2 linked regions of the Homo sapiens genome follow. The protein of the gene in region 2 interacts with the protein of the main gene of each other region in a biochemical or structural test. Each region holds a gene or a part of one and is shown on either strand. Other genes may lie near its edges.

Region 1 (7,101 bases), on a different chromosome or scaffold from region 2:
AAGAGAGGAACAACAGCAATAGTGTTCTGTCGGGATCTGTTCAGAGTTAAGGCCACCAATATTGTTCAGAGAATTCAGTCAGCACACCCCTCCCACCTCAATCTGCTGTCCCATCTCTCCTCTTCATCACCAAACTTTTTTTTCCAAACTTTCTAAATAGTCTCCACTTGCTGTTTGACTTCTTCATCTTCGTCTTTCTCTTTAACCCACTGTACTTTGTCAAGAACTATGAAAGGTCTGAGATTTCATCCTCCTTGCAAGCTAATCACTTAACCTGCTATAGTTTCATGGAAGCTGGCAGAAGACGTGGGGCTTTGCAGTCAAAGGGCTGTATTACTCATGGCACAGCAAGCAGCGCCAGTGTCATGTTCAGTCAGTTCCCTTGCCCCCAGGTCTTACCTGGAGCTACATGGTGTGGTTCAGGTGAGTGATGCACCTGCAGTGGGTTTGCCTCACAGCTGAGAAACTCTATCTAAGCTTAGGAAATCCCCAATCTTTTTATAATAGGCTGCAAGAAAACCTGCTTGACCTTTACCTCCAAAGACATTATCTTCACTATATTGGATGGTAAACAAATGTGCCCCTGCTCTTGGCGGGGAGGGGGAGCAGGGCAGGGGACACTATGTATATTTTCCAAGGCAGTTTGACCAAAAAAAAAAAAAAATCCTTGAAAATATAGTCTAAAACAAAAGCTGTTAGTGCCTCTGCTCACAAGACATGCAGAAATACTAGAGTCCCACAGAGAATTGTCTTCCAGCACATTTCTGCATTTCTTCCCACTAGTCATACAGAAGATTGCTCTCTTGAAAATGATCAGTGATCTAATTTCCCGATCTAACAACCTTCTAGAATCCCAGAAATAAACTCATAGGACAATAATCATTCAAGAAATATTTATTGGGTAGCTTCTATGTGCCAGGCACTGTGCAGGCCCAAATAGACATGGTCTTTATCCTAATGTGGGGAGCAACAGACATTAACCTAGTAGTTACACATACCAAAATGTAGTTACAAGCTGTGGTAAGTCATAAGAGGGGAGGGTATATGGTGGTAAGAGAGCTGACATAACAAGGTATCTTGAATGTATCTGGGAGGTCAGAAATGTTTTTCCCAAGGATGTCGCTTTCAAGCTGAGACCTGAAGGATGAGTAAGAGATAGGATAACTAAAGGAGAGAATGGCATGTACATAGAGCCTTTGGTTGTTGGGATCATAGCATTTTTGAGAAACTAAAAGAAGACCAGGAAGTCTGCCCAGGAAACAAGGTGAAAATGGTGTGAGATGAGGCTGGAAAAGGCAGGTAAGGCCAGACCTCGTATGGTCTTTTAGGCTGCCTTAAGAATTCTAGACTTATCCTAAAGCAATGAGAAACTGTTTAAGGAGATTTTTGGAGTAGTGACATAGTCTCATTTGCTTTCTTAGAGGATAATTTTGGCTGCAAAATGGAGACTGAATGGAGGATCCCAGATTGTATACAGTGAGATCGAATTAGATTGGTGGTGATTGGAAAGAAGTAGACCAATTAGATTTTAGAAATAAAATTGCCAGGAGTTAGTGCTGCAACAAATATGGAGAATGGAAGAATGGAGGTGAGGGAGACATCAGCGGTTACTGACTACTAGATATTTGATTTGAATAACTAGAGAGATGGGGGATAAGGAAAACAAGTGTTCATGAACTCAGTTGGACTAAACTTTGCAACTTTGAGATATTAAGTGGCCATGTCAGTGAAGCTTGGAATTTAGAGGTAGGGTCAAACTTTGACTAGTGGATCAGATTTGGAATTTAGAGGAAAGGTCTGGGCTGGAGGCATATATGTGGAGATCACTGGCATATAGATGATAACTAAAGCCATTGGCGTGGGTGATGCTGCTTAGGCCAAGAGATTACAATGAAAACAGAAAAGAATCTAAAACTGAATTTTAAGGTACTGTTATATTTAATAGTTAGGGAGACCAGCAGGAATATGCAAAGGAATCAGAGAAGCAGTGCCTAGGAAACTAAGGAGGAAAACCAAGAAAATGCAGTGTCAAAGGAAGAAGAAATGTTTAAGAAAGAATAGTGGTCAAAGTGTTGAGTATTGTTGAGAGGCCAAGAAAGATGAGGATTGAAAATGGCTCCCATTTTATTGATAAAAAAAAAGTGAAGCATTGAGAAGAGAACTTGTTCAAAGCCAACATAATTTCTTGACCCTCTCTCTGTTCCCAGAGAACTCATACTGGTGCACATGCTAGGGTCATTTATGTGTGGGTTTTCTTCTCTCCAAAGGCCATAAATTCCTTGGTCTTCACTTTACTTCACCTTACTGCATTGCATATTATTGACTACAATCTCTAGGTCTTCAATAACATTCTTAAATTATGTGTTAATCTCCTTCAAAAACAGCTGATCTTCTTTACTCTGCCTTTACATGTAGGCATGTCCCAAACATATTTTTTTAAATATAGTTTTTAAAAGTGCCATGTCTTGGCCTCTCCCTGGACAAAGGAATCAGAATCTTGAGGGGGTAGATTGCAGGATTCTGTATTTTCAAAAAGCTCCTGAGTAGGAAGCAGAGTAGGAAAGTATTAGCTTAGCGGTAAGTTTGGAAACCACTATCTTAGTCTCAGACCAAGCATAGTTGGGCAGTAAGATGGGGAAGCCACCCCATTCGCCCACACTCTGATAAAATCCTCATACTTTGAAACAATATACAGTTATACTTCAATTATTCCAAGATCAACTTGCCAGCTGTCTCGAAGAGGGCCAAATCCAAAAGTTAAGAAAAGGAAACATCTCTCACAGGGAAAGAACTTCTGATAGTGAAGAGCAATGAAAATATCTCAAGATACCACTGCCCTATTTACAACCAGAAGAAAAGAAACCTCTCATTAGCTGGCTGTGGACATAAACATCCCATCAATCTTCACCTGGAGCCGCAGAGAAAACCAGCCGAGAAAGGAGAGAAGAATGAAAAATAAACAGTAAAGCAGAAAGAATAAGAGGAAGGATCAGAGTGGATAGAGGCAGATGAGGAGATGAAAAGCAGTGAAGGATTTTAGAAGAGGTGATGAGAACATTCCAAAGAGGGAAAAAAAGAGAGCACCAAAGTAGGGATTCTATACACCGCAGCAATCCTCTGGGACTTAAACGTATGGCCAAGATATCGGTTTGAGAGTCAGTTATCAACAAAGGATTTAATTAGCCATTGTATTCTTTAAGAATATAGAGAATAATCACATTTTAAAGAGATTTCTGTAAAACAGTTTTAAAAATACAGCTATTTTAAAAGATCGCACAATTAATACACTGAAATAAAGCCCAGACATGCAACTTGTTACATCCATCACCATTTTTGAAAGGACAGTTCCTGAGGCTGGACTCACCGGCCCAAGTACTACCCCCTCCCCAGGTCTCCGGCGGCAACTGTAAGTCAAAAGCCCTCAGGCATTATTGCAGCGTCCCACATTGTTTGAGGTTCCAGGAAGTCGCTGCTACGCTCACTTGTAAGTCTTCGTGCTGTTGTAAAAATTGAGGTCGTGGTTTTCCACGCGATTTGGCTGGCGAAGAGACCACGAAGCCACCCCCCACGTTTTCAACTGAGTAAATATCTAAATATTTTTGCTTGCTATCCAGATCCTGGGTTCGAAGTCTTTGGGATTAGAAACTTCCAAGCCCATTTCAGAGGCTTCCTAGTCCTTGGGAGGAGTGTCTTTTAAAGCACCTGCCAGCCTTAAGTTCGCGTGCTTTCGGAAAGGGGCCGACAGGGTGCGTCTCAGGGGAGCCTTTTGAAATGTGGATTGAGAATTGTGTGAGTGTCTCTAGGAACCTCCATTAACTCCACTTTTCCTGAGTGTAGCTCCGAGCCTGGCCACAGCGGATGCTACCACAAGCCAGGCGCAGCCGGGCCTCGGGAGAAAGCCGGAAGCCCGAGAGGGTGTGGGCGCTCCGGGAGCCAAACGCGGCCGCTCAGCCGCCACGCGCCGGTGGCCCCGCGGGGACTCGCGTTCCGGTGAGAGAGCCCCGGCGCGGCGGGCTCGAGGCGGGGGTTCGGGGTCCCGGCCGCGGGCTCCGTCGGCGGGGCCCGCGCAGCCGCACTCGGCGCGCCGACTTCGGGCTCCTCCTCCCGGCTCCGTAGTAAGCATGGCGGCGGCGGCGTTCGTGGTCCCTCGGGTGAAACAGAAAGCGGGAGCTACGCGGAGAGGGAGCGAAGAGCGGGGCTGAGGCGGCGGCGTCACTGCCAGGAAACAACCCCAACAGTCAGCGCGCCGGCGGCCGCGGCGGCCCTGAGAGCTGACTCTGCAGCTGAGGTAGAGAGACAACGATCAGGAACCCTAAGAAGAGGCGCCAGAGGAGCCGCCTTCTGCCTCAGAACGGCGTGACTCGGAGGTGAGAGCGCGGGCACTCCCTCCGCGAAAGGCGGGGGACACCGAGCCGTCCCAACCCCGTCCCGCCCCGGAGGAGGCGCCGCGGAAACCGTTAGGCTGGGACTGAGGGCCGGGGCACTCTCCAGGGCTCGGCCCCGTCGAGGGGCGCGGACCACCCCCTTCTGTGGGCGCGCTGTGGGCAGAGGTGCAGAGGGGCAGTGGGGCCGGGGACAGGACCGGTCTACTAGTCGGGCACCTGCCGGGGCCGAGCCTAGCCAGGACACGCTTGCGGGGGCGCGGCCGGGGGCGCCATCCAGCCCAAGAGGAGGCGGCATCTAGCCCGAGGGAGGTGGCGCTGGTGCGCGGGCGGCCCTTCTCTCTGTCCCCCGCCTCCTCCCCGCGGCGAGCCGCGTAGCTCCGGAGGGCTCGGGGGCGGGGGCGGGGGCGGGGGCTGGGGCGGAATCCTCCTGAGAGGATCGCCCAGCACCCGCGGCGCCTTCGGCTTTGGCCGCCCGGCAGCCGCCGAACTTGAACGCTTTTCTGAAGAGAGTTTTCCCCGCTCATCTTGGGGTTAAAACCTCGAAAACCCGCCCTCTGTTTGATCCTGCGTGGCTGCTTCCAGTACCTGGCAGTTCCTCTCCCCGGGCGAGTTAACCACCTGTTCAGTCGGGAGGTGGACTCGAGGCTGCAGTCCTCGCCCGGTTTTAACAACCTGGATCTTCGAACTTTTGACACGGCTTTGGAAACGACGTCATGTGTTAGGTAAAGGAAAATGAACAGATAATTTCGCTGTCAGATTGCGAGCAGAAGAGGGACTGTTTTAATGGATGTGGTCGTTAATTGTTCTTTTATTCAACTGTTAGCGTTACAAGCCTTGGGATATTTTAGAGGGTGGAATGCGATGATTTGCTGGGGGTGCTAGAGATTGTGAATTCGAGATTTTCTTTTGTGAGATTTTACGTAAGTTCCTTTGGACACCTTTGTGTCTGACCATCTATTAAATAAGAGTCGCAGGCTGATGAGATTTTTTTTTTCTTTTTGCGGTATAATCATTATGTGTTCACTATGGGTTTTTAAAACCGAACAACGTAATTATTTTGCTTCTTACTGTGGTCTGTGTTTTTTAGTTCTTGAAACCAAAGTGTGTATGCTTCTGTATTGTAGGAATGAAATAACAGTTGAACTCTTACTATAATATTTTATCACCATGCTGTTACCAGCTCCAGTACTAAACATACGCCACTCAGGAGTTTGAGCCATATGTTAGGCAGAAACGAATTGAGTTTTGTGGTTCTGATCTTATGTTTGGATAAATATTTAGTTTTTGCGTATTTACTAACTCTTGTCATCTTGTGTCACCCACAAATGTTCAAGTGAGTTGAATCCCCTGTCTTTTGGATATTTTCTTGGTTGAATTAATTTTTCTTAAGTAATGAGATGAAGTACTCACTGAGACAGATGGTGGCCCAACAGAAAACAGTGATGAAGGATTTTTACCACATCTTTTATGAAATATAACCTGAAATGTTGCTTTTAGCTTTGTAGCCTACTAATCTTGCTTTCTAATCACACCAGTTAGTGGGAAGAAGGGATGATGACAGGAGAAACATCTTGTTAAAATTTTAATATTAAATCTTATATTTAAATTTTTTAGCACTACTACATTAAATTTTACTATATTGTCTTGTTTCATTTCATAGATCATCTGTTAGTTTTCTATGTGTAGGTTAACTGGAAAATTTTTTATCCCAGGCTGGCTACCGTTAGCCACCTGTATGCTTCTGAATTAACTCCCTCTTTTTCCCTTTTGTCTGAATCCTCCAAATCATTGAATGCTCCGGAAAAATAAAATCCTGGTTAACACTGTCAAGCATAGTTATAAGGGTAATTAATTTATCCCAAATTAATAATAAGCATTAAAAAAAACATTCTAGGATTATCTTCTTTTGGTGACGTCTGTGTCTTCACTTCCTCTATCTGTGTGAGTAATTGAGACCTGATTTATTTTAACACACATGTAATGATTACTCTTTACTAGTCACATTTCTACAATATAATAGTAAGCATATTTTATTACTAATTTAAAAATTTCTCCCTCTTCCCTGACCAGCCAGACATAGCTAAGGGCTGAGACATCCTTAACCCCCCGAAAAAAAGAGGGAATGCATGATTCATATTCTCATTGTCTTTTGTAGTTTTAGGCAAAGAGCATTTAATTTATACTTTATCAATTTTTAGTAATATTTGCGCTGTTTTAAAACATTTGCATTTTTTAAGATGTTCATGACATCCAAGGCTTGTGTATTTTATAATCTGCCAGTATTTTTAAAATACAATTTGATGAAGTAACCAAAAACGTTTTTTTTTTGAAACATTGTTGGTGCATTTTTGAATGAAAATGAATCTAGATCGTGTCTTTGAGAATGGTGTAGGGATATGCACATGATTTCCAATTTTATTAGCCAGATAACTAAGTGATTAGTGTTTCTGGTTTTTTTTTGTTTGCTTTTGTTTTTTTTGTTTTGTTTTTAGCATTGCCTAGCGGACTTCAAATAAACTCACAATATTGTAATTCCGAAGGTTTAGAATATGGTGCATATTTATTCCATTGAGCCTTTTACTGCTTCAGTTTATCACATTGCAAAACAAGAAATATGGCTCCCATATGTGTGAATGTCAAAAACTACTTGTTAAAACGAAATTAGTGGCCATTAATGTTGAAAGGCAAATTTTGTACTTTTACATGTATTGTGAGC
Region 2 (7,950 bases):
TCATTTTTGAGTGCTTACAACTAAGAATCAAGACTGATATGAGGACTGGAAGACCAATGTCTGAACACTGAGAATGACACGTGTTAGGGGAGTTCGCCATCCCTGGCAGTCGGCCGTATTCTTCCTCTGGCAAGCTATGTGGGAATGACCAGAATCTCTTCCCCAACAGGAATGGACTCCAGTGCTGGGAGCTTCAGGCATTCTGGCAGGATGGTAGGAAAGACATCCTGGGCCTAAATATAAGGCAAGCTCAGAGTGGACCCAGTGGTTGGTCATGAGATATAATGAAATAATCCATTCACAATTTGCATTTTTATGAAATCCCTTTTCCCAGAAGGGAGATTTGAAAAAATGTTAATCCTTAGATAAGAAATCTGGGGCTCTAGAAGTGATGGTAGCCACAGCAAGGTATTCAGAATCTACCCTTTTCTGTTCTCATCTGACTTGCTTCCCAAGGTGTCCTGACAGTGAAATGAGAAAGGGGTACGAGGTTGGCAACGAGACACATCTTGTGAATGGGGTGACTGCTTTCATATGTATCATTACTTCATTTGATCAGCATACAACCCCATGAAGCAGGTAGGCTAATTGCTGTTAGCATTTCCATTTTTTGGATTAGGAAGCTCAGACTCAGAGATGTTAAGCCATTTGTCTAAGGTTTCACCTTGCCTGAAAAAAGGATTGCCTGCCATCTGACTCAAGCCTACATCCTTTCTCCAGGGACATACTGCTAGTGGGGTGGGCAGGAAAGGAGTTTAGAGACACCTAGATTGGAGGGATAAAGTCAGCACTGCTTATATTTGGCATCGTCTTTTCCCTGGCACTGCCACTGTCACCACCATCCCCCTTCTGGATCCCTACTTTACCCCTTCATGCTGCTCTGGTGGCAGTGCCTCTGCTGCCATGCTGTACTTGAGCCTGCTGCTACAGCCATGCCTGAAGATGCAGCCCCTTCCTCTCTTCCTGTCCCACCAAATATGACCAGCTCTAGGTTCCATTACTTCTGGACTTTGCTCCAAATAAAACTTACACCATTTTATTCCAAACCCAGGTCTCTTTCTGCAACACCCGAGAAAAATATTGGGCTGCAGGAGCCAGAGAGGAGAGAGAGATTTACTGGTGAGAGTTGTAGGTGGGAATTGAAAAGCCAAGTCATGTCTTTGCCCCACCAGAAACTCACTAGGATGTACACAATGCCACTGTGATGGTTTTAAAATATGTAACTAACCTGCACGTTGTGCACATGTACCCTAAAACTTCAAGTATATATAAAAAAAGAAAGAACTGCTGATACACATATCATGAAAAAAGACCAAATAAAATAAAAAAATAAAAAAAAATAAATAAAATAAAATATGTCCACAAATGCTTTGATGTTCCTTTGTTTCTTGATCTGTATGCTAGCAACACAGGTTCATTCCGTTTGTGAAAATTCATTGAGCTGTGCTCTTATGAGCTGTGTACTTCTCTACATGTATGTTAAATGTGGACAAGAACTTCACATAAAAATCATTTTAAGAAAAATAAAATATTTAGATGGGGGCATTTGAATAAACATTTGTAATGTTTTTATTACAAAAAACTCAAGACTTAAGAAATTGCTCAAAGAAACTGATAGATCAGGAGATAACTAGACACTATACAAAAGGTCTTTCTTGACTTACAGTAGGACTATGGTGGAATTTCTTTGTTTTTCTGAAGTATTAAAATCAGAATCTATTGAGACGTAAAACTCTTTCAGGATCATCACTACAAGTGAGGTACGCTTGCATTTTAAAGACTGTTTTGTCCCTCGGTTTCCCTAGGTATAAATCAGTGAATCCAGTGAATCATTCAGAATGCAAAGAAGGTCTTTAAACCATTCTGATTGGATGTGCTCAGCAGGGGCTGGAATTTGGCAAGAAGAAGGCACCAATAATCTAGGAAGAAGAGTTTGAATATCTGGTTCCGTGTCCAACGGGCAGAACTTGGCCACTTTCTAAGACTCCTGCCAGCTCCAGGATGCCAGTTTTATGAGGCAGAAAGAACACAGTGTATTTAAAAAAAAAAAAAAAAAAACAACCCTGAAACACAATTCTAGAAAAGTCCATTAATGCATCAGGAATACAAAGGGGCCCAAGAAAAAAATATATATATACATGTATATATATTTGAGAAACTCATATATAGTGAGTTTCTTTTCTGCTCTTAGCTCTCACCTCTCACCTACCATAGAATTGCCTAATTTTATTCAGGAAGTTGAATAAAATTTCACCCAGGAAAAGGTGGAACTAAACCATGCTGGGTCAAATTTTAGGTTAAGAATTTCTGTCCTGTGTTCTACCTTGAGACTAACTGTACTAATGGTTTCCAAGAGGCACTGAAAGAGTAGAAATGGTTGAAAGGCCAATGTAATAATTTGCATTAACTTTATTGTGGTTGGAAGTTTATGGAAGGATGGTTGAGTTACTTGCCCAAGGCCTTATTACAGATAGTGAAAGTTAAAACAATGAAGTTCTTAGAAGAAAACAAAGAATATTATTTTTATGGGCTTAGGATTATTTTAAACAGGACATACAAAACACTAGTCATAAGAGATAAGATTAATATTTTGAATGTCTTTAAAATTAAGTGCTTCTGTTCATCAAAAGATAACATTAGAATAATTAAAAGTCAACACAGATTGGGAAAAGATATTTGTTATACATATATTGGACAAAGGGCTCATATTCAGAATATGTAAAGAACTCTTATAGGTCATTAGGACAGACAACTCCCTACAAATGAGCGAAAGACTTGAACAGACACTTTATTAAAAGGGTATTGAAATGAACAATAAGCATCTGAAAAATTGCTCAACATCCTTGATCATCAAAAAATGCAATTTTAAATCACAATGAAATACATATCCCCCCCCTTTTTAAATTAAAAAGACTGAAAATACCAATACTGGCAAAGATGTGAAACAACCGGAAATCTCATATCACTGGTTGGAACCTAAATTGTTATACGAATTTAAAAACTGGCAGTGTATTTAAAGTTTAATATGTGAACACTCTATGAACCAGGAATCCAATCCTAGGTATATATATATATCCAACATAAATGAATGCTATGTCCACCAAAAGACATGTGTAAGAATGTCTGCAGCAGCTTCATCAAAGGCAGAAACATGAAGCAACTCAAATGTCCACCAACAGTAGGATGAGTACACAAATCGTTGAATATTTATATAATGAAGTAATACACAGTAGTGAAAAAGAATGGACCATTGTTACACACAACAATATGGATGAATCTCATAGACGCACTGTTGGGCAAGAGAAGCCAGACATAAAATTGTACGTGTTATGTATTTCATCCATAGCAAGTTCAAATATTGGTAAAACTAATCTATGGTGATAGAGGTTAAAATAGTGGTAATCCTTGTCGGATACTGAATGGGAAGGGGCATGAATGAGCTGGAAAGGTTCCACATCTTGATATGGATGGCAGTTACATGGGTATGCATATGTAAAAAATTATCATTCTGGACACTTTTGATTTGTGCGCTTTACTGAATGTTATACCTCAAAAACAAAAAGTAAAACAAAAAATCAGATCATATGTCTTGATTTCGCGTCTAACAATAGGATCACTGGCTTTCCCTATAAACACTCATATTGATGTCCTATCGCATTAAAGTTCCTGGATACTCACTCTCCTCTCCCTCGCTGGGAAAGACATATTTGAGAACTCTTCATAGTCTGACAGACAGGAGAACCACACTTATTTCAGGCAGGGTTGGAAGAGTAGGGCGGAGGAGATGTAAATACTGCATCTGGGAAGTAATCTTTTCCCCCAGCACCTAGTAAACGATCAATACAAGTACAATAATGTCTATTGATAAATAACATTGTCCAACATTGGCTACTATCTGATACATACAGCATTTGCCACACACTTTCTAACAGGCACTAGGCAATGCACTAATTGTTTCCCACGTATTTTCTTAATACTTATATAATTCTACAGAGCTGTCCCATTGTTAGTCTTGTCCTACAGATAGGAGACGCAGGTTGTTGGAGGGTTGGTTCAGTTACTTGCCTAAGGCCTTACAGAAAGTTTAAGTGGTGCATGGAGATCTCAACTCAGATTAGTCTGAATTCAGAACCTGGGCTGTAAACCACTCGCTATGTTATGAATGGATGGTGTCCAAGCCCTGCCTGCATGTTATATAACACACTGGACCAAGTGCTGTGGCATTCCGAATGGGGCCGAAGCGGCTGCGGCTGCCGACATTGGCGATGGACTCCCCGAGGCCCTTCGTCCCACTAACTGCACACAGGTGGTCCCCGGGGCCAGAGAGCCGCCGGCGCTCTCTCCCCGAAGACCACGCCTTCGCCTCCAGCCAGTTTGCTTGGGGAATCAGAAAGGTGCCCAGGGCCCAGAAACCATTAAGTTTTTTCCGACTTCAAAAACACACACCGGAGGTAGGCGTGGGCGTTACCCGCCTCACTCCTGGGGGCAGGGAGAACCAACGCGAAAATCCCCAGAGAGGCGGAAGAAAAACCTGCCTGCGAGAGAATAGGATGGAGATGGGAAAAGCCTGGGGAAGAGAGAGTTATGCGGCAGGAATAGCAGAAAAGCGTACTAAGCAAAAAGAAAGGTGTCCCACTAACTCCGAAGTTAAGTGGGTGTCGACGCAGCCCCCTCTATTGCGCTTGCGCAGTGCTGCCTCCCTGAGCACCCCGCCCCTTCCCGCCGCTGAGGATTTACTCGTCTCTTGGCAACCATTCACCCGAAGAGCCAATCAGAGGGCAGCCCTCGCCCCGCCCCTGCCGTCAGGGCCGGGCGGAAGGGTCCCGAGGGGACTGGCTCCGCCACGCCCCGCCCCTGGCTCCCCCGGGAGGGCGGCTCAGGGGCGGGGACGGGGGCGTGGTCCCGCCGTATAAGAACGGAGGGGGCGGCGGCGGGACGGCTCACTCGGTGCCGCTGCCTAGGGGCTGTAGAGGTCGCGCCGCTCCTGCTGGGGCCTGCCCACGCCAAGGACCTGCCTCTGTCGCCTCCTCTTCTATTGCCCAGGTGAGTCCGCGACCCCCCTCCTCTAAAGGTGCGGCGATGCGGCAGCAGCCCCAGGGAGCCGCGAGCTCACTTAGTGGGGGTCCGCCCCCACTAAGTGGTGCTCAGGTCTTTGCCCAGCCTGGTAGGGGGCAGGCGGACCCGAGGGGAGCTGCGGACAGGTGCCGAGACCCGGTGCTCCTTTCCCCTCCTGCTCCCTCGAGGACCCCCGCCCCTGACACACCCGTCCCAAAGGGCCAGAAGAGACGCTCCGAAAGGGAGCTACAACTTTCCAGAGACCTGGGGCTTGGCAAACTCCAGCGAGTTCCTGCTCCGCGCGTCCTGCAGGCTGCGCGCTGGCCAGGCGCGGGCAGGGCGTCTGAAGAGTGTGTGATCGGCGCCTCCGCTCCTACCTGGATCAGACGGCGCCCCCCGCCACCCATGCCTCCCTTCCTGGCTTGCAGTCCCTCGGGCTCGCCCCGGCGCTCCCGCGGGCGCGCACACCTTCGCCGGCCCGCCGAGTGTGAATTCGAATTCGGCGGTTTCACTAGGCGCAGCTGGAGACGCAGCGGTCCGGGGCTTGGATCTGGTTGGGGAGGGGAGGGGCGCTTCCTAGGCTCATTGCCAAGTCCTGAGTTTTAAGGAGAAGGGCGGAGATCCTTAAATTTAATGCGCTCACATCAGACTGTGGACACCATGAGCAGCAAAGGGATCCAAGCCAGTGACTTGTGCGCTGCGCGTCTCTCAGAAACTTCTTGGGAATGCGGTGTCTGTGAAACCTGCTTCCTCTCCTTTTGAAAATGAAACTTGCTTTACTGCGTAGGTGAAAAGCCACGGCAAGTGGGTCGACTCGGACGGATACCGGTGCGGCTGCCCCGGGAGGTGTCGCAGTTCGGGGACTCCCTTCGCACTGGTCGCGAGGCAGGAGGGAGCAGGGTGGGAGGCGAGTCAGAGGAGGGTGACTTACCTGAAGAATACAGGTTGGTAGCCTGCACACCTGAACTCAACGCTGGCGGGCGAGAAAACCAAGCAGCGCTACCTCCAAGTAAGGGCGCTCCCCTGGAGAAATGAATGCCTGGCGAGCTTCTGGAGAACCCACTATTAGGGCTGGACCCTGCGGGAGGGATAGTGTCAGCTCCCTTCCCCTTCGCCCTTTTTTGTCCATAGGTAGGCTTTTGTAGGGCTCTAACCAGTTCCCTGGCTTAATTAAGTAGGGGCCTGCTTCCTTTTTAACATTTTTGCTTTCTTACGGAGATATAAAGTGCATACAAATGAAGTGCTTAAAATGCACTTATAGTAAGAAAGCTTTTATAAATACTATGTGCATAATTATTTGTATTGTGACAACTTGGTCTTCAGGTTACTTTGTAGGTGGGTTAGGAGACTGAACCAGCCCAGGAAATAAAGTTAGGGTGATTAGATCCTCCCAAAGTACACTTCTGGCTGGCTCAGCTGCCCTCTGCGTGCAGGAAAGAGGGTGACCGTTGTTGGCGACAGCAACCTTTCAACGTGAGTAAATTGGCAAGGAAATGAGCCCAGGAAGTAAGTTGGGCAGCCGCAAGAGTGGTAGGAGAGCTTACCCAGAATTTTACTGTCTTAAATCCCCAAGGGTATTATTGAGGGTGTGAGACCAGCCACGTTAGGCCCTGCAGTGGAAAAGGGGGAGGGGGATGGGGAGTAAAGAATGCTGACTTTTCTCTGGGCTTTTAGGGAAACCTCTGAGCTGGGCTGCAGGGGTTCTGTCCTTTGACATTCTTGTTTGTGAAGATGGAAAATGATCTCTGGAGTCAAGCTTAGTTTATTTCAGATAATGAACTTTTTCTCTTAAGGTATACCCATAGCTTTAGAGTACATATATTCTCAATAAAGAGTTTTTAGGAAGATTTTGGTATATTGTATATAATTGTTCAGGTAGCTATGCGGGGGTAGGGGGCTCCCATAACAAAGTTTAAAAAAAAAAAAAAACTCTGCCAGGAGGCCTCTAAATTGTTACCAAAACAAAGATCCCTAATTTCATAAGCAGCTTCAGTGAGCACATAGAATTAACAGCCATATTTCTTACGCTGTTTTTTCCACAATACCTACCTTGTATCCAGGGATTAAATTCATGTAATTCTGAAGGAAAGGATTTGGCTCTTAGCCTGCTTGTCAGAGTGAGCATGACTTAGTTGTGCACCTGTGGCTATCTCTACCTGGTTTCTTCTCTTGTACCGTGAGCACAAGTAGCCACTGAAATCTCCCGAGTTCCAGAGGCCCGTCCCCCCTCAGCTGTATCTCCCCATAGTGCACACATTCAGCCCACATTCCCCCGTGTTCAAGGCCAGGGCAGATCATGCACATCTTGCGCTGCCGGTCAGAGAACAGAATTCCTCATATTTCTGAAAGTCCAAGGAACAGTGCAGCAGTAAAAATAACTTAAAAGTGGGCTGTAGTGCTCTTGTTTTCACAGTACCATTAACCAGACACATTTGATAGAAAATTTAAAAACTTCATTTAAAAAACTTTTTTTGTTGTTTTTACTGCTCAAGTACATAGGACCTTGTCTTCATCTTTTGTCTCTGATCAATGTTGTGTTCATGGAGTTACCTACTAAAGAAATGGAAACCCAAAGGCTCTCAGTGGATGAGTTGAACCTTTTTTTTTTTTTTTTGCATTACTGAGAGAAGTCGTGGAAGCCCAAAACTAGTTTCATGAGTTAAGCTAAACTTATGTTTTGGGGTTTCTTGGTTTCACACCTGTCTCTGGGTGTATCTGCTATTTTGTGTGCATGTGTGTGTGTTTAGGAGTTAAGGAGTAATGTGGAATGTGAGGTTACTTGGAATAAAACATTACTTGGGTTAGATAAGGTCTGTTGCTTTTTGTGTTGTCATTGAGGTAAACAAGGCACTGTAGGAAAATGCTTCCTGCCATCTTGGTGTTTTGACTATAGTA

Evidence for each region. The genes of interacting proteins can lie anywhere in the genome.
Region 1: the proteins of TENT5C (region 2) and FNDC3A form a complex in vitro, tested with the Homo sapiens proteins (one study listed by BioGRID).

Annotation. Positions count from the first base shown.
Region 1 is NC_000013.11:48,971,811-48,978,911, forward strand, and holds the start of FNDC3A (fibronectin type-III domain-containing protein 3A), read left to right. Parts: upstream 1-4,101; 5' UTR 4,102-4,367; intron 4,368-4,851; exon of another isoform or gene 4,852-5,107; intron 5,108-7,101. UniProt on the Homo sapiens protein: Mediates spermatid-Sertoli adhesion during spermatogenesis.
Region 2 is NC_000001.11:117,601,111-117,609,060, forward strand, and holds the start of TENT5C (terminal nucleotidyltransferase 5C), read left to right. Parts: upstream 1-4,937; 5' UTR 4,938-5,043; intron 5,044-7,950. UniProt on the Homo sapiens protein: Catalyzes the transfer of one adenosine molecule from an ATP to an mRNA poly(A) tail bearing a 3'-OH terminal group and enhances mRNA stability and gene expression.